3 separate regions of the Homo sapiens genome follow, and regions 1 and 2 are each linked to region 3. The links come from fine-mapping of genetic effects on gene expression. Tissue or cell type: whole blood. Region 3 holds a variant in brackets; each other region holds the start of a gene. All regions are shown on one strand. Distances are from middle to middle.

Region 1 (8,100 bases), 140 kb after region 3:
CCTTATAGATGGCCATCTAGCCCCTGCTTGAACACTCCAGGGCTGGGAGCTCACTCATTTGCAGGCAGTCTATTCTACTGTAGGATGGTTCTCTCTCCACCTGCCTCTTTTTATAAAAGAGATACACTGTCAGAAGACACACTGTCAGATTCCATTGCAGAGATACAGAGGAATCCTGCAAATTGTCCTCTGACAACCCTGCACCCACCTCACTGTAAACCAATGTCCCACAGTGCCTCTCCAATTCCTGCATCATCTGACCCAGCCCCACTTACTCATTTTGTAATCTTAGGTAACTTATGTCACCTCATTAAATCTCAATTTCTTCATCTTTAAATGAGATGAAAATTCCAACCTCACATGTTGTAGAGATTAAACATGATAACACCTATAAAGACATGTGGACATGTGGCCTATAGCAAGTACTCAGTAAATACTAGCTGGCATGAATGGAGAGTTACAGCAGATGCTAGCCTGATTGGAATACAGTGGGCTAGCCTAATAAGACATCCTGGTTGAGATGAACCTGGAGCTGTGCATTTAAAGGAGAAAACTAGGGAGTTCATAGAATAAGGGAGCATTTGGGAAGGATCTTCGGGTAGAAAAATAGAGTTTTCAGCTCAACCTAAAAGTATAAATTTAAATGTTGCAAGCCTGATGGGGAGGAGGGTCAGGAGGACCCTCTAGCAAAATGCACGACTTGACATGGAAAGTAATTGGGAATCACTCTAGGTTTATGAGAAGTAGAGTAACAGGATCACAGCAGCAGGTCTTAAAAAAACAGAGTTCCTGCTGCTATGTGAAGGTTAAAATAGAAGCAAAGGAGCAGACCGGGAGACAATGGCTGATTTGGATGTGGAGGACTAATCTTTGACATCTAGGATTTTTTTAGTTCTACTGTCTTTTTTTTTTTTGTTTAGTTTTTTGTTTTGTTTTCATTCTGGGCTATCAGCTGGTATATCTAGCAGCCATCAGGATTGATGGTCTATAGAACCCCTACATCCCTTATCCTAATAGGTTGTCTCAAATCTGTAATGGGCCAAAAACCAGAAAACCAATCTTTATTCATCATTCATTCACGTATGAATACATCTACCCACAGTATTTCGTTTTATATATATCTAGTATTTTATTACTATCCATAGTAACAACAACCACTGACCTGTCTCTAGAATAATTTGGAAACGAGTAAGACATAGCCATTGCCTTTAACGGGTTTATTAGACTTCTGAATTAAACAGATTTAAAAAATTAACTCTTATGCTCAACAGACTCTGGAAGTACCACAAGAGAGAAATGAACAAAATTCTGTGCCAGGGGTTGAAAACAGAGCAAATCAGGCTGCATTCGGCCAGCAAATGTTTTATTTGGCCCACACGGTGTTTTGTTTTTTTTTCAGAGTGGATGCTAACATTTAAAAATTAGGCCATTTCACATAAAAACCCAGATTCCTAGCTTCTGGTAAAAACAGGAAGAGCTGAGCACACTAGGCCAAATTCCTGCATGGTGGTAATTGGCAGGAGCTGAGCAGCAGCTGCCCCTTTTAGGCCGAGCATGAGCTCTGCAGTTTGCCACACTCTATTACTCTGACATTGAAGCCAAATGTTCAGTTGCCAGCTATCATCAGCTTGTGCTATAGGTACGTTTATAATAAAGTTAAAAGTAAAATGATTTTTTAAAACTCAAATCTCTATTAAAAGTACAAATGAAAGATTCACTGATACGGCTGTGTTTCAAGAAAAATGGGGTACAGAATACAAGACTATTCCTAGGGAAAACATACAATTCCTAGTGTTGAAGATGCAAATAAACATCTCCCATTTATGTTACCTGCCTGTCTCCTGCAGACATTTGAGTTTGCCACGTCTGTAACATAAGGAAAAATTAATGTAGTGGCTGAGAGCGTTGACGTTGGAGTGAGGAAGACCTGAGCTTGAAAGCTGGTTCCACCCCTCACTGTGTGACGCTGGCAAATTATCCACCCTCTCTGGGCTTCAGTTTCCTCATACATAAAATAGAGGAAATTATAGTACCTACCTTAGAGAGTGGTGAAGACACAACGAGATAAAGGATATGAAGTGCTTAGCCAGCACCTGGCACATAGTGTCAGCTACCACTAGTGCCGAACACAAAAGAGAGGACCCGTCTCCAACGTGAGCCTTGAAGGATGTTCAGGATTTCCGTGTGAGATGAGGAGAGACGGCATGCTTTACACAGAGAAAGATCTCAGAAGGGACAGAACCAAAGACAAGTAACCTGCTCCAGTGGCCAGAACAGAGGCTTCACAACAATGCTGAATGATTTTCAAAGTCAGGCCAAGACCTATCCCATAAGTAAGAATATGACAAAACAGACTGCTATGTTATAGATTTAGGCGATAACAATGGAATAGGACATTAAATAACTGAATCAAAAGGTGACAAAGTCATTCCCCTTCAGTTCTTTTTCAGACTTCCCAATTAGGAGAGCTTGTGTTTGGTGCTCATTTTGAGCACCTTTCTGATCATACCTGCCCATCTCCAGTTTTAGAGAAACGAGATCTCAGGTTTAAAGGCTCCCTAGCAACAATAGCTAGCTACAGCTTGTTCAGTTTTGTTTCTCCCTACTTTAAGTTTTACTTTTACACTTAGAGCAAGCGACGCTGATTTTATCTTAACATTTAGAGCAAGTGACACTGGTTTTCATAAATGGAGTAATAAAGTTTCCTTGTAAAATGTGAAATCATAATTAAAATAAATGAGACAATTTAGAGAAAAACGTCAAGAAAACAAGAGTATGGGTACTATGTGGATGTGGCAAGAACTGTGAAGCTTGAGCAGCTTCGTGCTGTCTCGTGGGTGTGAGATGAATCCAAGGCAGCGACAGGGCCAGACCGTGAGGGAAGAGCCGCCTCCACCCGCCACCACCTCAGGCGCGGCACCTCCCTTTGCCGCTCTCCAACCCTCGGGAGTTTCTCCAACCGCCAAGGGGCGGGAGGGCGACCCTGCAGTCTCCCAGGCCGGGGTTCAGTGCCCTCGGCCCAGGCAGCAAGCCCGCTGCCCCCCTCAAACACGCTGCAGCGGCTCGCGCACTCCCCGCGAGGACTCGACCTCCTGCTCTTCGCGAACCGCCCCGCTCCTCACCAGTGCTCGGCTTTATCTCTCCACGTCAACACGGCCCTCATCACGGCTTCCCTTACGGCTCGGGCTCCTCCTACCCGCCTCAGCGTCTGTCTCAGCAACCGCCTCACTAACGGTCGCCACTCCACAAGCCACTTTGGCTACCTGCGTTACCCCTGGCAACGTACATGCGCGGTAAGCTGAGTGCGAGGGCGCCTTGCTCCGAGCGCGCATGTCCGAAAGGGAAAGCCAGAAAAGCAGCAAAAGCAATGGTGGCACTGGAGCCCCTAAGGCGCCAGCGCAACCAGAGCGCGAGCGATTGGTCGGGGCGTGTGGGGGCGGTGCGTCTTCCTCGAGAATGGATTTGATTGGTGGAGCGTGGAAATGGCGGCTGTAGCCGAGGGGGCGGCCGGAAAGCAGCGGCGGCGTCTGGGGCGCTTTCGCAACATTCAGACCTCGGTTGCAGCCCGGTGCCGTGAGCTGAAGAGGTTTCACATCTTACTCCGCCCCACACCCTGGGCGTTGCGGCGCTGGGCTCGTTGCTGCAGCCGGACCCTGCTCGATGGGCACGACTGGGCTGGAGAGTCTGAGTCTGGGGGACCGCGGAGCTGCCCCCACCGTCACCTCTAGTGAGCGCCTAGTCCCAGACCCGCCGAATGACCTCCGGTAAGTTACTGTCCCCTTTTGGGCCTCAGTTTCACCACCTGTAAAATGGTATCGGGAGAGTGGACAGTGTGTGGGCCTTTCTAACCTTTGACAGAGGGTCGGCAGAAACCTCGAAGCCCACGGGTTTAGTTACTAGGGTCTGGAGCCCAGGTGCTCTTCCTGTGCGATCAGCCCTGGGGTGCGCTCGACTTCCTCATCTAAGATGACTAGGGAGACTGGGGGGGAGCCGGGAGGTTTTGTGAAAGAGGTCCCCTTGGGGTTGGAGGATCCTAGGAAGTCATTAGACTACGTGTGTGATAGGAGGTTAAGATTTACCTACTTTTTTCAAAATTTAATACTAAGAACTACTTTGAAAGAGGCATCACCTTCTTTTTACAGAGTCTTTTACCGAGACTTTGAGATGTTAAGTAACTTGCTGCTAAACTTACAGCTGGTAGAGCTGGAATTTGAGCCCCAGTCTCTTAAGAGTTTGTGCTGATTCCACCAGGCTTCAGTATTTTTATCTCTAAAATTGTAAACAATATCATTTCATAAGATCCATCCAGCTCCTCAAAATTATTTTACCCCAAATTACATCAGAAAACCTTGATTCTAATTCTAGTTCTTGCAGTTTCCCTATTTGTAGAAAAGAACTTGGGTTAAATGATCTCTCTAGACCCATCCACCTTTTACAATCTGTGGTTTAGTGATTAGGATACACTTTACTGAAATTTTTTTTTTAATTTTAAAAGTATGTTTTCATCATAGAAGACACATTGGAACTTTAATGAAGTTTTAGTTTAGTGGGTTTTTTTTTGAGATGAGGTCTCGCTCTGTCACCCAGGCTGGAGTGCAGTGGCACAATCATAGCTCCCTGAAGCCTTGACCTGCCGGACTTAAGCAGTCCTCCTACCCCGGCCTCCTTAGTAGCTGGGACCACAGGTATGCTCCACCACGCCCGGTTGCTTGTTTTTTTTTGTTTTTTTGGGTTTTTTTTTTCATTTTTTGCAAAGACGAGGATCTCACTGTGCTCTCCAGGCTGGTCTCAAACTCTTGGGATCAGGTGATCTTCCCACTTCCTCCTCCCAAAGTGCTAGCATTACAGGAATGAGCCACCTTGCCTTGCCAGCTTTTTTCAATAACAGTATGGGGGAGAAGTATTAGACCAAGATTTGGTAGACTTGGGTTCTCGTGTCTGTTCTGCAAGTAATTTAACCTGTCACTCAATTTTATCAATAAATTGAGAGTAAACCTTATTGTACCTACAAGGTTACCATGAGGATCAAGAATGAAGAAGATTCAAAAATTCTGTATCAAATTATTTACCTTCTGGAGGATTACATCTGATGAAAGTGATACACACTCTCTCCCAGAAATTTTACATTATGTAAAACTTTTACCTCATTTATTTGCAGAGAAGACAGTGTAACTCACTGATTTATTTAAGCATTTTCTGGTGCTTAAGAGCTTAGCTATTGGTTCATATTCTCAAATTTATGGTAAGTGCCCCCAGAAATCTTTATAATAGCCCTACTCAGTGATTAATCCGAAAAGTTTCTAGCTTGACTTTTTTGTTGTGCAGAGATTTCCAACACCTTTTAACCTGTGCTAGAGGATATGGGAAGCTTTTGGAAGACAGGAAAATACTCCCATAGCACAAGACTGGTCCACACTGACTTTAATCTCCCTCATTTTAATATGGATAATCTATGTGGTTCCTGCATTGTCATGGATTAAAACTGAGTAGGCAGTGGAAGATAAATTTTAAATAAGTTAATCACTTAGACTTTGTTTTTCCAGCAAAGAAGATGTTGCTATGGAATTGGAAAGAGTGGGAGAAGATGAGGAACAAATGATGATAAAAAGAAGCAGTGAATGTAATCCCTTGCTACAAGAACCCATCGCTTCTGCTCAGTTTGGTGCTACTGCAGGAACAGAATGCCGTAAGTCTGTCCCATGTGGATGGGAAAGAGTTGTGAAGCAAAGGTTATTTGGGAAGACAGCAGGAAGATTTGATGTGTACTTTATCAGGTAAGCATATAAGATGGTAAAGATAGTACAGCCAAATGATTTTGTCTGGGCAGGTAGTGGGAGCATAGCAGGAATCTTAGCTTCTTTATATTTTTACCATAAAACCATTGCAGATTCTATTCTTTCAATGTTGCTATTAATTACATCAAGTGATTTGGGGAAAATTACATACATTTTGTCCCTCCTTCTGTGAATGGTTAACGGGTAGGTTGCATTTTAGTTATATTTATAAATTTATATTGTCATAGAGGAAACCATTTAAAAGTGCCATTTATCACTCTTTTTCATTTTTAAATGACAGATACCTATGGCAACATTTGGAAATTAATTAGAAATCTGAAATGTGGTCCAGTTCTTTTAAAAGTCCCTTCTATTTACTAGCAGTAAGTTTCCTTTAATATCATTTTCTAGCCCACAAGGACTGAAGTTCAGATCCAAAAGTTCACTTGCTAATTATCTTCACAAAAATGGAGAGACTTCTCTTAAGCCAGAAGATTTTGATTTTACTGTACTTTCTAAAAGGGGTATCAAGTCAAGATATAAAGACTGCAGCATGGCAGCCCTGACATCCCATCTACAAAACCAAAGTAACAATTCAAACTGGAACCTCAGGACCCGAAGCAAGTGCAAAAAGGATGTGTTTATGCCGCCAAGTAGTAGTTCAGAGTTGCAGGAGAGCAGAGGACTCTCTAACTTTACTTCCACTCATTTGCTTTTGAAAGAAGATGAGGGTGTTGATGATGTTAACTTCAGAAAGGTTAGAAAGCCCAAAGGAAAGGTGACTATTTTGAAAGGAATCCCAATTAAGAAAACTAAAAAAGGATGTAGGAAGAGCTGTTCAGGTTTTGTTCAAAGTGATAGCAAAAGAGAATCTGTGTGTAATAAAGCAGATGCTGAAAGTGAACCTGTTGCACAAAAAAGTCAGCTTGATAGAACTGTCTGCATTTCTGATGCTGGAGCATGTGGTGAGACCCTCAGTGTGACCAGTGAAGAAAACAGCCTTGTAAAAAAAAAAGAAAGATCATTGAGTTCAGGATCAAATTTTTGTTCTGAACAAAAAACTTCTGGCATCATAAACAAATTTTGTTCAGCCAAAGACTCAGAACACAACGAGAAGTATGAGGATACCTTTTTAGAATCTGAAGAAATCGGAACAAAAGTAGAAGTTGTGGAAAGGAAAGAACATTTGCATACTGACATTTTAAAACGTGGCTCTGAAATGGACAACAACTGCTCACCAACCAGGAAAGACTTCACTGGTGAGAAAATATTTCAAGGTATCCAGTGCTTTCAAGCACTATTAAACATTATGTGATGAGAAATTTATAATGCTGCATCTTGTATTCGTGCCCATACATGGTTAAGATGTGAAAATAGAGCCAAGAAATAGGGCCAAATATGAGATACCAGTTGATCCTAATACTTTATCTTAAACTGATATTCAAGCAGTTTCCTATGGCAGAGAGAAAATCGGCTGACTGCTGTCGTGATGCCATGGCAAAGGAGAGTATTACTATTAACAGCTGCCATCGTCTCTCCCTGGTGCAGCAGCTGGGACTCTCCTCCTCAGCAGTGCTTTCCCTTCTTCCCATCCTCTTTCCAGCCAGTAATCTTAAAACTTGAAGGAAAATTAAAAGCCTTCACTTGTGAAAAATTTAGGGAAGGCTTCTTATATACATAAATGAGTGGAGAATAGTTGGTGTCTTCACACCCCTCCTGATACTTACTACTAAGTGTGACTTCCAATTTAATTTTGTATATATCATAGTCATTTTTATCTTCTATTTTAATGTAATGCTTCTCTAAAATGCTTTAGAGCTCTAAATAATTCAAAAGTATAATCACATAGTTCATCTATTATTTGTAATATGCTCTTAATACAGAATTCAGAACTTAGCAGTTTTGTCTTTATAATACCTCAGTGAATAAGAGATAAAAGGGAGACCTTTTGAGCAGCCCTGTATTAGTTATTCATTATGCCATTATGGTATAATGAATAACTCCTTTAAAGAATAATAATTTTACTTAAACTCCTGTGGGGAAACAGCCTGGAGAAATTTGTGAAGCAGGAGATTAGGTTTGATTCTTGTTCCCAGTTCTACCCATGATTTTATGTCTTTTCTGTGCCTGGAGTTTCTCTGCCTTTAACACAAGATGGCCATATATACCTAGGAACTGCATAAGAATTCTTCAAGTCTGTGTCCTAGACACTGAGCTTCTTGAAGAAAGCTTTGAGGTTTATGTAGATTTATTGCTAGCAAAATGGGCAAATATTAAAAACTTTTTTTTGTGGTAAGAGTCTAGTTCTCAACATGAGATGAAGTAC
Region 2 (8,100 bases), 32 kb before region 3:
GCTGAGAGCAGGGCCTGGACGCCTGGAGGCTGTGCAGCTGCAGGCCAGTGGCACACCACTCTGACCTTAAGTGTCCCCATCTGCAAAAGTGGGTTGATCAAAGGTCCATCAATGATAGACTGGATTAAGAAAATGTGGCACATATACACCATGGAATACTATGCAGCCATAAAAAAGGATGAGTTCATGTCCTTTGTAGGGACATGGATGAAGCTGGAAACCATCATTCTGAGCAAACTATCGCAAGGACAGAAAACCAACACTGCATGTTCTCACTCATAGGTGGGAACTGAACAATGAGAACACTTGGACACAGGATGGGGAATATCACACACTGGGGCCTGTCGTGGGGTGGGGGGAGGGGGAGGGATAGCATTAGGAGATATACCTAATGTAAATGACGAGTTAATAGGTGCGGCACACCAACATGGCACCTGTATACAAACGTAACAAACCTGCACGTTGTGCACATGTACCCTAGAACTTAAAGTATAATTTAAAAAAAAGGGGGGTTGCTAAGACCCCCCCCGCAGGGTTGCTCCCACGGGGAAATGAGACGGGTCCAGCCCCCGAGAAGCAGCAGTGATGGCTCCCGGCACCACCTAGGCCCATGGCTGGATTGCCAAGCCGTCCCTAGGACTCTTGTTTCCAGCACCTTCCTGTGGCTGAGGCGGTGCTCTAAAGCATTAACCTTGCAGGGGCATTTCCTGCAAGGAAACGTTCTCAGAGGCCAGGCCCAAGGGACGGGAGGGCAGGAGCCCCCTCCTCCCAGCGCAACCCTGGCCCCACTGTTATTTTTTCCAATTGAAGAAGAAAAACATTTCCTCTGTCTCCTCACAGCTCTGCCCTGGGCAGTCAGAGGTGAGAATGGACAGGACAGGGTGGGAAGCCCACCCAGTGGGGTGGAAGGCCCAGGCCCGCCTTCTCCGAGCCAGCATAGCCGTTGACCACCGTGCCCCAAGCAAGACTGCCCTGACTCGGCCACCAGGTCCTCGTCTTCAAAGGCACTGCTGGACATTTCCCAAATTTCAGGCATTTTGGTGGCATCTGGATTATCACCTATTTCACATTTGTCTTTAACTCACTTTTAAAGGACTTCAATCAATGCATTTATCAAGGAAGCTTTACATCATTACTGTACATGGAAAACCAGTAGCACTTGCCAAAACCAGAAAGTAACGGCAAGTACAAAGAAAACAAAGCGCTATCAGTACATTCTAGCACGCTGATGTCAACAGCCCTGAGTTTGAGACCTTCTCTCTATTAAAAAGAGACAGTGACAAATGTTACAGTCATTAAAGACATGTTAGCCTCAAACCAAGACCTTTTCCTTGATATAATCAGACTTGAACAAAAACTGAAAAAGGCCCAAATTGCAGTGTGAATAACCAACTAGGTCTGGCTATTCTGGGTTAGTTCATTCCAAGTTAGTTATTGCTGGGTCCCACCTAATCCCCACTCCTGAGTACCTTTCATCTCCCCTTGGTTCCCTCCAAAATTCCCTCTGGAAGAACACCTCATTGCATCTTAGTAAGGCCAGGGAAGGTGTGGTTTGTTCCTTCCTTTATTCATTCATTCAGCCAGTAATTGTCAGCACCTCCTCTGCCCAGCCAGGGGTATAGGGGCTGCCACCATGAGCCATCCTGGCCTGATGGTGCTCCCAGCTAATGGGTAGAAGGGAGAAATCATAAGATGTGGAGCCAGATCTGGGTTTCAATCCTTACCTTGCTAATGCCCCTCAGTTTCCCCATCTGTGAAATGGGTTTGCTGACCACAGCCTAGTCAGCTGGCTGCAAGGATGGTGTAAGATCTGGTAGGGCAGTGCTGGGCACAGGATTCACTCTCACCGTCTGGTGGCTCTGCTAGCCACATTGGGGCTCAGGACAGGAGGTGGAGCCCTGGTCTTTAGTTGCAATGCCCCCCACCCCAACTCCTGGCTCTAACATGGGCTTCAGGGGTCATGGTTCACTGCCACAAGGCGGGGAGAAACTGGTGTTTGCTAAGAGCCTTGTTGTGCTTGACACCTGTTATGTTATATTCTCCATCTCACACCCTCCCAGGGGCAGGTGTTCTGCTACGATTGTCCTCATTTTACAGTTGAGGAAACTGAGGCTCAGAGAGGGTGAGTGCCTTGCACAAGACCACACAGCACTTCTCACCTCCAGTTGATGTGAGGATACTCAGACCCGAATACCCTTCACCTAGAGAGCTCCTAAACCCCACTGCTCAGCTTGGCAGGGAGCTTGTGTCCCAAGTGCCCAGGATCATCACCACAGGCTGGTCTAAGACAACACTGAGCATTATCCTCACGGCTCAGTGGGGGGAGCTGCAGGATGCAGCAAGATGAACCAGATGAGCGGGAGACAGGAAGGAAGAGAGGAGGGGCTGGAGAGGGAGTGGGGGTGAGGGATAGGGAGGGAGACAGAGAGAGAGACAGAGATAGAGACACAGAGAGACAGATGAAGAGTGGAAAGGGAAGGGGGCAAGACACTGAGAGAAGGAGAGACAAAGAGAGTGAACGGGAGGAGCAAGACAGATAGGAACAGAGATGGGTGGGGGCAGGAGAGAGAGAGATAAGACAGAGAGACCAGCGGATGGACTGGGGTGGGGGCACTGAGGATGTGAGTGAGGAGGAGGGGCATGGAGGCAGGCCCCATGCACCCCTGCTGGGCTCTGCAGTTGGCCCCCACGGGTGGCACGATGTGCGCCTTCTCCATCCAGAGAGGAAGACAGGGACACAGTCCCACGGGCAGTCCCCTGAGTGGCTCTTGGTGGGTGGATGGGCCTGGGAGGGGGCCTCCAATTTCCTGCAGCTCAACACTCCCGGCCATCAAAGCAGTGGCCAGACCAGGGCTGAGGGGTCTGGAACAAGGCGGGCAGGATGGCAGGAAGGCGAGGGTGTTGAGGGAAGTGGGGGGCGGCTGCAGGCCCAGCCTTTCCTGCCGGCCCCATGGTGCACAGACACCCCTGCCCTTCCTTCCTGGTTGGGTGGGAAAGAGGAAAATGAGGTCCCGCTACTCTCAGAGTGAGGCCCACCGGGCACCCTGTGGAAGCTGGGGGTCTGATGGGAGGCCCCGTTCTGAGAGGTCGGAGCTGAAGGGCTTTTGCTTTCAAACACTGTAGCTCTGCTCCTCATGAGCTGTGCATCTTGGGCCAGTCCCTTCCCCTCAGCCTTGGTTTCCATATCTGGAAGATGGGTTACCAATAGCGCTCGCCTCGGGGGAATCTGTGAGGAAAAAGAGAGCCCGTACATGGCAAGTGCTTGGCACAGTGTCTGGCACGGGCTAGCCCTGTGTGAGCACCCCCGCAAAACAGCCACGGCGCATGGTCCTCACAGGGCTGTGACCTTGGAACCAGGCTGCCTGCCCCTAACGCTGCTTTTGAGATCAAGAACCCTGCCCAGTGCCGGCTTTTGTGGGACTAATCTTCCACTAAGCCTGGGAGGATGTCAGGGAAAGTGCCTGGCGGGGGTGCCAGGGGTGGGGGTGCGGCTGGGTCTCCACAGGAGGCAACTGTGGGCTCCAGGACCAAGGCCTTGCTCTGGCTATCGGTTGTGGGCCACTGGCTGGAACTATTTCCTCTCTCCATGTTTTCCTCATTTATATATCTGACCCTGAGCACTGGTCCCTCTGGCCCTGCCACTTGTAAATCCCTTTTATGGGTCTGGGGTTTGGGGGACAGATTATGGGGTCTGGGGGGCCCGACTGGCCGGCACCGGGGGAGCGAAGGCCTGGACAGTGCCTGAGAAAGGTGGTGGAGGGAGGCTGAGTGTGGAGGGGAGACACAGGGTTCGGGAAGGCAGAGGGAGAAGGAAAGGGGAGCTCAGAGGGACCGAGAGAGGGACGGAGGGTCCGAGGGGGAGGCAGAGGGAGCCACGGAGAGAGGGAGCGAGCGTCAGGGACGGAAAAACGGAGCAGGAGAGAGAAGGAGACTAGAAAGGGCCGGGGGCGGGGCTGCCAGGGACTGGAGAGCGAAGCGGAGTCGGAGGGAGAAGGAGAAGCAGAGGCAGAACCCGGAGAAGCGCCACACGCGCGGAGTTTGGGGTGGGGACAGAGACGGAGAGACGCAGAGACCGAGAGACGCAGAGAGAGGGAGAGACGGGGTGGGGGAGAGGGCGGAAAAGAGAAAACAGGCGCGAGCGAGGCAGGCCAAGCGGCCAAGTGGGAGGAAAGAGCGAGGAGAGCGAGCGACGGCGGCGGCGGCTACGGGGAGGGACCCTGGGGCCGCGGGCGGGTCCTGGAGGGCGCGGGCGGCGGGACCCGCGGACGGCGGGGCGTGGCCCAGGGCGGCCAGGGGCAGGCGGGGGTCCCGGGGGCGGGCGGGGCCGGGGCGGGGAGTGAGGGCGTGTCCGCAGCGGAGCCGCCCCCGCCCCGCCCCCGGGCTGCGCGGCGAGGCTGACCCGGGCCCGGGCGCCGGGGTCGGGGGCGGCTGGCGCGGGCAGGAAGCGCATCGCGGCCCGGGCCCGCCCCCCGCCTCCCGCCGCCTCCGGGCTCCCGGCTCCCGGCCGCGCCTCGCCCCATGCACTCGCCGCGCCGCGCAGCCCGCGCACGCCCGGATGGCTCCTCGCGCCGCGGGCGGCGCACCCCTTAGCGCCCGGGCCGCCGCCGCCAGCCCCCCGCCGTTCCAGACGCCGCCGCGGTGCCCGGTGCCGCTGCTGTTGCTGCTGCTCCTGGGGGCGGCGCGGGCCGGCGCCCTGGAGATCCAGCGTCGGTTCCCCTCGCCCACGCCCACCAACAACTTCGCCCTGGACGGCGCGGCGGGGACCGTGTACCTGGCGGCCGTCAACCGCCTCTATCAGCTGTCGGGCGCCAACCTGAGCCTGGAGGCCGAGGCGGCCGTGGGCCCGGTGCCCGACAGCCCGCTGTGTCACGCTCCGCAGCTGCCGCAGGCCTCGTGCGAGCACCCGCGGCGCCTCACGGACAACTACAACAAGATCCTGCAGCTGGACCCCGGCCAGGGCCTGGTAGTCGTGTGCGGGTCCATCTACCAGGGCTTCTGCCAGCTGCGGCGCCGGGGCAACATCTCGGCCGTGGCCGTGCGCTTCCCGCCCGCCGCGCCGCCCGCCGAGCCCGTCACGGTGTTCCCCAGCATGCTGAACGTGGCGGCCAACCACCCGAACGCGTCCACCGTGGGGCTAGTTCTGCCTCCCGCCGCGGGCGCGGGGGGCAGCCGCCTGCTCGTGGGCGCCACGTACACCGGTTACGGCAGCTCCTTCTTCCCGCGCAACCGCAGCCTGGAGGACCACCGCTTCGAGAACACGCCCGAGATCGCCATCCGCTCCCTGGACACGCGCGGCGACCTGGCCAAGCTCTTCACCTTCGACCTCAACCCCTCCGACGACAACATCCTCAAGATCAAGCAGGGCGCCAAGGAGCAGCACAAGCTGGGCTTCGTGAGCGCCTTCCTGCACCCGTCCGACCCGCCGCCGGGTGCACAGTCCTACGCGTACCTGGCGCTCAACAGCGAGGCGCGCGCGGGCGACAAGGAGAGCCAGGCGCGGAGCCTGCTGGCGCGCATCTGCCTGCCCCACGGCGCCGGCGGCGACGCCAAGAAGCTCACCGAGTCCTACATCCAGTTGGGCTTGCAGTGCGCGGGCGGCGCGGGCCGCGGCGACCTCTACAGCCGCCTGGTGTCGGTCTTCCCAGCCCGGGAGCGGCTCTTTGCTGTCTTCGAGCGGCCCCAGGGGTCCCCCGCGGCCCGCGCTGCTCCGGCCGCACTCTGCGCCTTCCGCTTCGCCGACGTGCGAGCCGCCATCCGAGCTGCGCGCACCGCCTGCTTCGTGGAACCGGCGCCCGACGTGGTGGCGGTGCTCGACAGCGTGGTGCAGGGCACGGGACCGGCCTGTGAGCGCAAGCTCAACATCCAGGTACACCCGGGCGGTGGCGGCGGCGGCGGCGGCGGCGGCGGCGGGGGCGGGGGCGGGGGCGGGCGGGAACCGAGCGGGTCGTGAGCTGAGTGGGTCACAGGTGGGAGCGCGCAGAGATCCAGATGTACGTGGAACCCAGGTGTGCACGCGAGAATACAGGTGTCCCCCGAGGGGTACTACTGGCGCCTGTATGGCCCAGGTGGGCATGTGCAGGGACTCAAGTGAGTGCCGGCTCATGGGCGCGCATACCTAGGCGTACTGGGAGGGGTCCAAGTTGCCACAGGTACCCAGGTGCGCATAAAGCCCAGGTATGCACGTGAGGGTCACAGGTGCATGCTGAGGGCGCAGTAAGTGACTGCATGCCTGACCAAAGTTGTGTTCTGGGGCCACTGCGTGAGCCTGTCAGAGTTACCATTGCACGTTGGTGATGGGTGCATGGGTGTGGCAGGTGTGCAAGGAGGCACACAGGTGTGCACCAGGGCCCTGCAGATGTCTGCATGGACTTGTGTGCCAGCAAGCTGGGGCCTGAAGACGCACAGGGCAGACAGGTGTACTGCACAGACACTGGTACAACGGGACAGGGCTAGGTGTGCAGTGGGATGTGCGTGGCAGGGGACGCAGGTATTTGGGCATGAGTCGGTACTCTGAGGAGGCTGCATGGTTGGCAAACAGGTGTGTGCCTGAGGCCAACTTTTATTCACCTATTCTGCAAATATTTCCTGAGCACCTAGTATGTACCAGGTGTGGGAGTCTGGGGTAAACAATAGCACTTGTGGAGTGCCAGCTAGGGGCATCACATGTCACAATTCCCAGTTCTCAGAACAACCCTCTCAGGTAGCCTCTATTCTCATCACATTTTACAGATGAAGAAACAGGCACAGAGAGGTTAAGCAACTTGCTGAGGATCACACAGTTGGGCACTAGCAGAGGTGGATTTGAATCCAGCCTGTCTGGCCTCAGCATCTGTGTTTTTAATGCCCAGCCTTTGCTGCCTTCTGGACTTGGATCTCAGAGTGCGTGTGTTTTGGGGGCGTCCCAGGCAGCTGGGGTGGGCAGATGCCAGGGCCAGGAGAATGGAGGGATGTGAACAGGGGTGTTTTGGGGGCAGGAGAGGGCCGTGGGGCTCAGTGGGGAATGAGGAGGAGTACAGGCAGGCATGGGGCCCAGGTGTCTGAGGCTGGGTTGGGCAGTAGCAAGGGGGGCCAGGTTGACGGAATCAGCATGTGTGTTGACATGACAAGGGTGCGGGAGGGGACTTGGTGTGGTTCCCTGAAAGGAAGTTCATGGCAAGGGATTGCTCCTCACACTGGCTTTGGGAGCTGGGTCTGTTGATCCCCATAGTTCACCCTGAGGAATGAGGCCCCAGAATGACACTGGGGCCTTTCCCACACCCTCCACCCATCTGAGTCTGGCGAGCCCACTTCAGCTCCACTGCCTGCCATTCCCTTAGGAAGCTGCATCTCCATCAGCAAAATGCAGAACTCAGCCTTCTTGTGGTGACCCAAGCCTTCCTTGGGGCCCCACCCTGTCCCTTCTCCATGGCTGTGACAAGAATTTCATGAGATTAACCATTCCTCTGTGGGCGGGCCCAACACTGGGGCTTTGAGAAAATGCAGATTCCTTCTCCCAAGGTCGAGGTCGGTCTCCCACGACTGCCCACCATCTGGCCGGCCACCCTGAAAGTAAAGGTCACGGTGGGTGAGCAGGGCAGACAGTCCAAAGGGTGGTGGGGCTGCTTGCCCTGTGCCATGGTTGGTTCATCCACCATCTCCACCCCAGAGCTTCATCTCGCAGGCAACTGTGTTTGGCACTGGGGGTCTCAGTGGGGAGTCGCTGAATGGAGAGAAGTGTCCTGTGGACTGAGGGCCTTCCTCCAGTAGTTTCAGGCCCTGTGTCTCGGCCCTTTGGTGTAAGCTGATCTGTGGGATTCCTTAGGCCAGCCCAGGGTTCCCTCCCCCTCTGGCAAGAACCATTCTGGTTCCCACGGTCCGCTCCCTCGGTGCAGTGACTCACCCAGCTGAGGGGGGCTGGAGCTTCTCTACCTAAGGGGACAGGGCCTCTCCAGGGACACAGCCCCAGGACAGAGTGGCGAAGGGCCTCTTCCCCACCCCAAGGCCACAGATTCCGGCTGCGGCCTTCCTTGGTCACCCTCCCTGTGTTTTCCACACCCTTCTCCTCTTCGCCGTGCCCGCTGTGGGCACAGGCCAGTGCCACTTGGCAGTATCTCCCAGAGG
Region 3 (8,100 bases):
CAGCCTCCCAGCCTCGTCTGAGGCCAGGGAGCACTCATGGAGGAAATTGGCCCCACCACTGGGCGGGTTATGCCATCTGCCTGTGCCCACCTTCCTCATCTTTAAACAGGGCCAATGCGACCTGCCCATAGGATGGAGGGTGGTGGCGAGTGGGAGGCACGGGGTGGGGCTGGTGGCCGTTAGGACTGAATGACTAGTGTTTTCTCCTCAGGAAGGCAGGACTGAACCAGGCAGGCTGGGGTGCAGTGAGTCCTCCTGCCTCTTCTCTGAAATGCCCCTGTGTCACCCTCTCCTTCTGTTTCCTCTGCAGAGCCCTCAGGACTGCCCCCGGACCCTGCTCTCACCCCTGGCACCCGTGCCTACGGGTGGCTCCCAGAACATCCTGGTGCCTCTGGCCAACACTGCCTTTTTCCAGGTAAGTAGAAGCCAGGCCAGCGCCGGGTGGGGCCAGGAGGAGGCCGGGGAGCACGCAGGCCACTAACTGCCCCCATGTCCTGGTGTGACCCCTGCTCTGGGCCCACTGCAGTGCTTTCGCACCTGTGTGGGCTTTGCTTTTCTTTCTCTGAGTTTCCACCTTCTGCATGAGGAAGCCCCACTCTGACTGCACGGGGCTGCAAGAAGAGGAAGTGGTGAGGGCCAGGCCAAGGGGGACAGCTGGGGGCCAACAGCTGCCAAGGGAAAGCCAGTGCCCCCAGGCTCTCCTGCCCCGTGCCACAGCCGGAGGGTGGACGCTGCCCTATCCTGTCCTCCCTTAGCCTGAGCTGTGACCCTGGACACACCCACCCACCGCCGAGCCCACTGCCCCGTGGGTGGCTTCCATGTCTTCCCTGCAGAATGACCAGAGAACCCCTTGGCCACCCCATTCCCCATTGTCCAGATGGGGAAGATGAGGCCCAGGAAGGAAAAGTAGATGACGCCAGATCACACAACACAGGGCTGGACTTGTGCTTAGCTCTGGACTCCCCAACCAGTGCTCGTCTTTGCAACTAGCCCCGCCCCCACCATCTGGGCTGGGGGTTGGGGACGCAGCTCCTTTCTGGACCCCTCCTGGAGGCGCGTCCTGGGTGGGAAGCGTTGACGAGTCCTGGAGGCGTGCCAGCCACCCCCCTCCCCACCTCCCTGGAACTCGCCATCTGTTACTTCCATGGAGGAGCTGAGGCCCGTGAGAGCTGTCACACGTGGTGGCCACGTGCCGGGCATCTGGGATGTGTCGGGAAGCCTCGTGGCAGGGGCTGGAGCTCTGGGAGGGCTAGGGTGGGGCCTGCCCTCAGCCCTCAAGCCCCACCCTGCAGGAGTTGGGGCAAGCGCCTCCAGGATCAGCCAGGGGGCTGGGTGGGTGGGCAGGATGGCTCTGCCCCTGGGCCGTGGGCGCCTGGGATGGGGAGGTGTGAGCCTGACTTGAGTCCTGCCGATTCTTCCCAGCTGTGTGGTGGGGCAGCCTCCACTCTGACCGAGCTGCAGGGGCGCCTGCCCTCCTGCTCCCCAGGGCCTGCTCCTAGAACACTGAAGTCAGGCCCAGCGGTGGGGGCCTGTTTGCTGAGCCTACACCCTGGGGAGCTCTGGGACGGGCCGGGTGTGCTGTTCTGAGGTGGCTGAGGACTAAGAGGAGGGACCCATCTCCAGCTCAGCATGGCAGGGGACAAAACGGGCTTTTGGCCCCGTCAGCAGCCACTTTCCTGTGTTAGCTTCCGGGCTGGGACCCCAGAAGCAGGGAGGTTGACCTGCATTCTCCTCAGGGTGTCACATCTGCCAGCCACAGGGACATAAACAGGAAGCTCTGCCACGCAGCTGGCTGGGTGCTTGGCGTAATACACAAAACCTGAGTCTGTTTACTCAGCAAATATGTATTGGTGCTGCTCCTGAGAAGGCCAGATGAGCCTGGGGAACTGAGCCTCATGACACAAACATTATTGGATACCTCCTGCATACTAATGATAGCAAGCACATATTAGGCCCCTACCGTGTGCGGCCCCTTGAGGTACACAATCTCCAGTTTTCCCAGCAACCCTATTCCCATTGTCCAGGTAGGAAAACCAAGCCTCAGAGAAGGGGTCAACTTGCATGAGGTCACATAGCTGGGACATGCAGAGGTGGGGTTTGAACCCAGGCCAGGGCTCTTCCAGCTGCTTTCTGCTGCCCTTGGGGGTGGTGTCAGAGCGGCCGAGCCCTGACCGTCCCCGGTTGGCGAGGGGACAGGTAAGCAGCCAGGCAAGAGGCTAAGGGTGATGCCTGGCACACAGGGATGGGGGCAGCTCTAGGAGCTTCGTAGTGCCCCAGCAGACACCTGAATAGTTGCTGCTGAGGGAATGAATGAGGATCAAGTGAGGCACACCCCTTTGATTTGAGGGCAGCATCTGGGAAGGCTTCAGAACAGGGGGCTTTTAAGCTGGATCCTGAAGGCTGTGTTGAGCTTTGCTGGGTGGTAGAAAGGAAGACAGGTGTTCAGGCGAGGGGAGGGCTCAGGCAAAGGCCGGGGCAGGAGAGTCTGGCCGTGTTGGGCGTTGGGGCACGTCTGAGCAGGGCCTGGTAGGGCAGGATGGGAGGTGGGAAGGCTCGAAGAGCAGGGGAACCCCGCTGGGAGTGGAGCCTTAGGAGCTGAATACAAGGCCCCTGGGTTAGATCACTGGGGATGCTGGAGAGGCTTTTAGTGGTGCTGAGCGCATGAGGCCAAAGTTCTTGGCATTCCTGCACTGCTTGCCTCCCTCAAACATTGGACGTGATGGCCAGGAAGGGGATTTTGGGGGACGGGACAGCCCATGCAAAGGCCTGACAGTTCGACCAAGCCCACCTTTCCCAGCAGGAGCCCGTGGTGTCCTGCTGGAGTTAGAGGGCAATGCATGCTGGCTTGGTTCTCCTCAAACCCGCCTCCCACTCCCTGTTTCCCACAGGGTGCAGCCCTGGAGTGTAGTTTTGGGCTGGAGGAGATCTTCGAGGCTGTGTGGGTGAATGAGTCTGTTGTACGCTGTGACCAGGTGGTGGTGAGTGGGGTGACTCCAGCATGGGCGGAGGGCGGGCCTGCGTTAAGTCCAGATGCTGTACCCCTCACCCCACCCTGCCTCTCTCTACCTTCTGGTTCCCCCATCCCCAGCAGCCCCAACTTCATCTGCCTCCATGACACCCATCCCCAGCAGAGCCCCAGGCATTGCCCATGCCCCCTATGCTCTTTTCTGCCCTTTTGCAGCTGCACACGACCCGGAAGAGCCAGGTGTTCCCGCTCAGCCTCCAACTAAAGGGGCGGCCAGCCCGATTCCTGGACAGCCCTGAGCCCATGACAGGTGGGCACCCCCACCCGCCCCACATGGCCTCGGGGCCTCAGTGCAGTGGGTGGGGCTCAGCCTTGTG[C/T]GACTCATTCCAGTGGTTGCCCCAAAGCCGCAGATGTCCCACCCCATTGTTCTCCAGCACACACACAGCCTCATATCCCAGCCCTGCCATGCCATGCCAGGCTCCAGGCCTTGGGGTCTCCGTGCATAGTTTCCCCTGCCTTCCTGGGCCTGATCGTCCCCATAGGAAACAGGACACAGTCCCTCTGCAGAGCTTGTAAGGACCTGATGAGCCAGGGCTCGCCCAACCTTGAGCGTGGCATCTGGGGTGTGGTCAGCTCCCCTCGCGTGGCAGCTGTGCAGTTGCTGTGACTGTCTGTGTTGGGTCCACTCTCCAGGGGCTCCTCTGTTCATGGGGAGTCTCAGGCATCCCTGGTGGACGTGGTGCCCTCCAGATTCCCACCATGAAGGTCCCAGAACGGCCCTGCATACCCAAGGTCCTGGAGAACCCTCCCTGCCCTCCTCTTTGGGCTACTTGGAGGGTTTGAAGCCCCAAAGTACTCATAGTCCACATTACTCAGGGATCCCCAGCATCCTAGGGCCCCGCCGGGGTTGATCAGACCCACTGAGGTCTGGGTGGGATCTGGCTTTACCACCCACAGGCCTCGTGAGCTCAGGCGAGTCCCTCCTGTCTGAGCGTCAGCCTCTTCTCTGTAAAGTGAGGCTGACCTGAGGCTCCCAGCTGGAGTCTCTGTGAGGGGAAGGAAATCAATGAAGCAGGGGCTGCACTGTGCTCAGCACAGGCCCCAGGGGTTTGGGGAAGGGGCTAAGAACCTCAGGGGATCCTGACCCCCAGAATCAGGACTTCCTCTGGGTGGGGCACCACAATGATGGGGCGCAGACCTCTTGACAGTTGTTGTGTGTGGAGGGCACAGCGGTGTTGGGGCATGCACCGCAGAGCGGGGCTGACCGAGCTGCCCCGTGTCTCCCCAGTCATGGTCTATAACTGTGCCATGGGCAGCCCCGACTGTTCCCAGTGCCTGGGCCGCGAAGACCTGGGTCACCTGTGCATGTGGAGTGATGGCTGCCGCCTGCGGGGGCCTCTGCAGCCCATGGCTGGCACCTGCCCCGCCCCCGAGATCCACGCGGTAAGCATGCCCAGTGGAGGCACGTGGCACCCGCACTCCGGCACGGCGCATGCGCAGTGCCCTCGAGGGTCCCACTTCTTGGGGACCCAAACGGCACATACACCGACACATGGGTGCAGTATCACCTGTGAACAAAAGGAAGTGCTCTGCCTCACAGAGCTGATGTTTCAGTGGGGGAGGTGGACAGTAATAAATAAGGAAATGAATAAATTATAGAAGGCATTGGAAGTGTGGCGTGGAGGAGACACCGAGGGCTGAATGTTGTTAGTTTCAGGGGATACCATGATCACTAAAGCCACCAATGACATGGCCAAACATTGCTCCTGGAAGCTGACCTCAGCATCCTCCAGGAGACCCCCTAAGTAGCGTCCCCAGGCCCACGTGGGCTCAGTAATGCACACCCACATCCTCCTTGCCAGCACAGTGACCTGCCAAGTGGCCACAGTCCCAGCCCCACCTGAGCCTCCAGACCTTCCTCTAAGCAGTGGGTCTGCACGGCTGTGCCCTGCTGGGTGCCTGTGACTGTGGGCAGAAGCCTGCTGGCCTGCAGCCTCAGATCCCATTCGCCCCTCTCTCGGGTCACCTGGCAGATTGAGCCCCTGAGTGGCCCGTTGGACGGTGGGACCCTGCTGACCATCCGAGGAAGGAACCTGGGCCGGCGGCTCAGTGACGTGGCCCACGGCGTGTGGATTGGTGGTGTGGCCTGTGAGCCACTGCCTGACAGATACACGGTGTCGGAGGAGTGAGTAGCCACGGTGCCCCCACCTACCTTCTCCAGCAGTGCCAGCCTCTGCTCTGTCCTCCTCACTCCTCCCTCCCCATCCTCTGTCCTCACTCTGCTGCTTTCTGGAAGACTGTTGCTTCGTGGCCTCCAGGCCTGTGCCGAAGCCATTCCCACCACACATCCTGCCGTTTCTGCTTGGGGCATCTGCTTTATCCCTCCAGCTCTGGCTCTGATGCCCACTCCTCTGGGAAGCCCTCACAGGCTGCCCTAGCACAGCCCTTCTTCCACCTAAGCCTTGCTCTGAGGAAAATCATTTGCAATTAAAAAGGCTGGGGCTACTGGCATGGTTTAGAGATCTGTGACTGGCCCAGAGGGGCCGTAGGAAATACGCGTGAGCAGAGACTGAACTGGCTTTCCTTTTGGGAGGCCGTGCATCAGGCGTGTGGAAGAGCCGTCATCTACCAGCCCAGCAGACGTTCTCATGATCAGAGACCCTTTTGTCCCACCCCCGTGTCTTATAGTTGCAGAACTGTGGGAAACTGATGGGGTAAATTATACATAGAAGGCATTGGAAGTGTGGCATGGCGTGGAATGGGGCGATCCCTGAGCCTGGCTCTAGGGTGGCCGTGGGGGCCAAGGACCGCTGGCTGACCACAGCACCTCCCCTCAGGATCGTGTGTGTCACAGGGCCAGCCCCAGGACCACTCTCAGGTGTGGTGACCGTGAACGCCTCTAAGGAGGGCAAGTCCCGGGACCGCTTCTCCTACGTGGTAAGGGGGGGCTGCAGCCCACTGTCCGGCCCGCCCAGCACGCACACTCCCGGGGGCTGGCCCGAGGCCCAAACGCCTGCCTTCCTCCCACAGCTGCCCCTGGTCCACTCCCTGGAGCCTACCATGGGCCCCAAGGCCGGGGGCACCAGGATCACCATCCATGGGAATGACCTCCATGTAGGCTCCGAGCTCCAGGTCCTGGTGAACGACACAGACCCCTGCACGGAGCTGATGTAAGCCTCTGGGCCTGGCCCATCCCTTCCAGCCCAGAGAAATCAATGGGCTTGGGGGCTGGCGGGCTGGAGGTGACATCCTTGAGCCAAGCCTCTCTTGGGTCTTCATTGGCTGTGTCCCCTAAGCCAAGCCCCTTCTCCTCTCTGAGCCTCAGTTTCCTCAGCTGGTAAGAATAGTACCAGTAATTGGAAGAAGGGCTTTGTGCCAGGTATACAGTAGTTGCTCCATAAGTGATAGCTGTAATGAGAATGGTGTTGATTGCACACACACAGATCTTCTGGCTGGCCCAGGGGTGTGGTGAGTGGCAGGGGTGTGGTTGGAGTCTGTTGGCGAAACACCTTTGTCTTTATTATGCACTTATTGTGTACCAGACCCCACTAATGGGCATTGCTGGGACACCAAGAGGAGCACAACATAGACCTCAAGGGAAGGGCAGACATACCCACGGGAAGTAGGAACATCCAGTGGGGCTAGGATTGGGAGAAAAGTCAGTGCCTTCAGGGATCTGGGGAGAGAGACTTCACCAGGGTTGGAGGCGGGAGAGAAGACCTGGGAAGGCTTCCTGGAGGAGGTGGGATGGGGCGGAATTTGGAAGTGTAAGGAAACAGCTGGGCACTAACTGGGCAGAAGATGAGTTGGGACCAGTCAAGGAGGCCTTGAACCCCAGGCCAAGTGCGTGGACTTGTGCCCCAGGTCTCAGGGGCATTGGCGGTGGGTGAGCAGCAGAAGGCAGGCCCTGCTGATAACCTGCTGCTCCCCCCAGGCGCACAGATACCAGCATCGCCTGCACCATGCCTGAGGGGGCCCTGCCGGCTCCGGTGCCTGTGTGTGTGCGCTTCGAGCGTCGGGGCTGCGTGCACGGCAACCTCACCTTCTGGTACATGCAGAACCCGGTCATCACGGCCATCAGTCCCCGCCGCAGCCCTGTCAGGTGAGACTGGCACCCCGCCCTTCCCCCAGGCTCTCTGGGGCTGCAGGTGCACTGATAGGTTTTGCTGTCCCCCGCAGTGGCGGCAGGACCATCACAGTGGCTGGTGAGCGTTTCCACATGGTGCAGAATGTGTCCATGGCCGTCCACCACATTGGCCGGGAGCCCACGGTGAGGCATTCGGGGGCCTGATGGGTGGGAGGGGGTGGCCCAGGCACAGCCAGGGCCCTAACTGACCAGGCCTCCTCCCACTGCATCTCTGTCCCCTCTTCCTCCCTCTGCCTCTGTGTCTCCTCAAACCCCACTCCCCACCGTTTCTCCATGCCCATCTGTCCATCCTGCATCCCGGCCTGGGCCCCTGGCTCTCCTGCACCAGCTCTGCAAGGTTCTCAACTCCACCCTCATCACCTGCCCGTCCCCCGGGGCCCTGAGCAACGCATCAGCGCCAGTGGACTTCTTCATCAATGGGCGGGCCTACGCAGACGAGGTGGCTGTGGCTGAGGAGCTACTGGACCCCGAGGAGGCACAGCGGGGCAGCAGGTTCCGCCTGGACTACCTCCCCAACCCACAGTTCTCTACGGCCAAGAGGGAGAAGTGGATCAAGCACCACCCCGGGGAGCCTCTCACCCTCGTTATCCACGTGAGCACCAAAGGGGCCGGGGTAGGCGGGGGCAAGCGAGCCAGCCTCAGCTGTGGGCCTCGGGAGCACTTCCCCATGAGCATCCTCCCCCTTTGCACCCACAGAAGGAGCAGGACAGCCTGGGGCTCCAGAGTCACGAGTACCGGGTCAAGATAGGCCAAGTAAGCTGCGACATCCAGATTGTCTCTGACAGAATCATCCACTGCTCGGTCAACGAGTCCCTGGGCGCGGCCGTGGGGCAGCTGCCCATCACAGTGAGTGGATGGGGCGCCGGAGCAGGGCAGACCTGGCCCCACCCCTGGCCCATCTGCCAAGCATCTGCCCCTCACCCAGCACCTGAATTCACTGAGCGTTTTCACGCTCAACAGCTCAGTCCAGCAAAGCAGAGCTTTACAT

Evidence for each region. PIP is the estimated chance that this variant, and not a neighbour inherited with it, causes the effect.
Region 1: MBD4 starts here. The variant in region 3 is fine-mapped to the expression of MBD4 in whole blood (TOPMed, PIP above 0.99).
Region 2: PLXND1 starts here. The variant in region 3 is fine-mapped to the expression of PLXND1 in whole blood (TOPMed, PIP above 0.99).

The regions. Positions count from the first base shown.
Region 1 is chr3:129,435,394-129,443,493 of GRCh38, reverse strand. MBD4 (methyl-CpG binding domain 4, DNA glycosylase) reads left to right here and starts at 3,546. Exons shown (of 8, transcript NM_001276270.2): 1 at 3,546-3,764; 2 at 5,544-5,774; 3 at 6,186-7,033. The coding sequence starts at 3,661. IFT122 (intraflagellar transport 122) reads right to left here and starts at 3,270. Exons shown (of 30, transcript NM_052989.3): 1 at 3,123-3,270. The coding sequence starts at 3,163. RefSeq lists enhancers at 2,267-2,316, 2,717-2,766, 2,797-2,846, 2,997-3,206, 3,407-3,546 and 1 more.
Region 2 is chr3:129,603,095-129,611,194 of GRCh38, reverse strand. It overlaps PLXND1 (plexin D1), which reads left to right and starts at 4,519. Exons shown (of 36, transcript NM_015103.3): 1 at 4,519-5,866. The coding sequence starts at 4,556. LOC124909431 (a long non-coding RNA gene) reads left to right here. Exons shown (of 2, transcript XR_007096079.1): 2 at 841-1,317. RefSeq lists enhancers at 2,307-3,297, 3,298-4,290, 5,283-6,275, 7,268-8,100 and silencers at 4,191-4,350, 4,501-4,560, 7,695-7,989.
Region 3 is chr3:129,570,644-129,578,743 of GRCh38, reverse strand. PLXND1 (plexin D1) reads left to right here. Exons shown (of 36, transcript NM_015103.3): 9 at 311-415; 10 at 2,889-2,978; 11 at 3,182-3,275; 12 at 4,254-4,408; 13 at 4,999-5,150; 14 at 5,803-5,902; 15 at 5,996-6,135; 16 at 6,900-7,067; 17 at 7,145-7,235; 18 at 7,441-7,704; 19 at 7,809-7,958. Among named protein-coding and RNA genes, the nearest start is that of H1-8, 32 kb to the right of the region's middle. RefSeq lists enhancers at 1,331-2,057, 4,963-5,688. The variant C/T (reference allele first, on the strand shown) is at 3,343.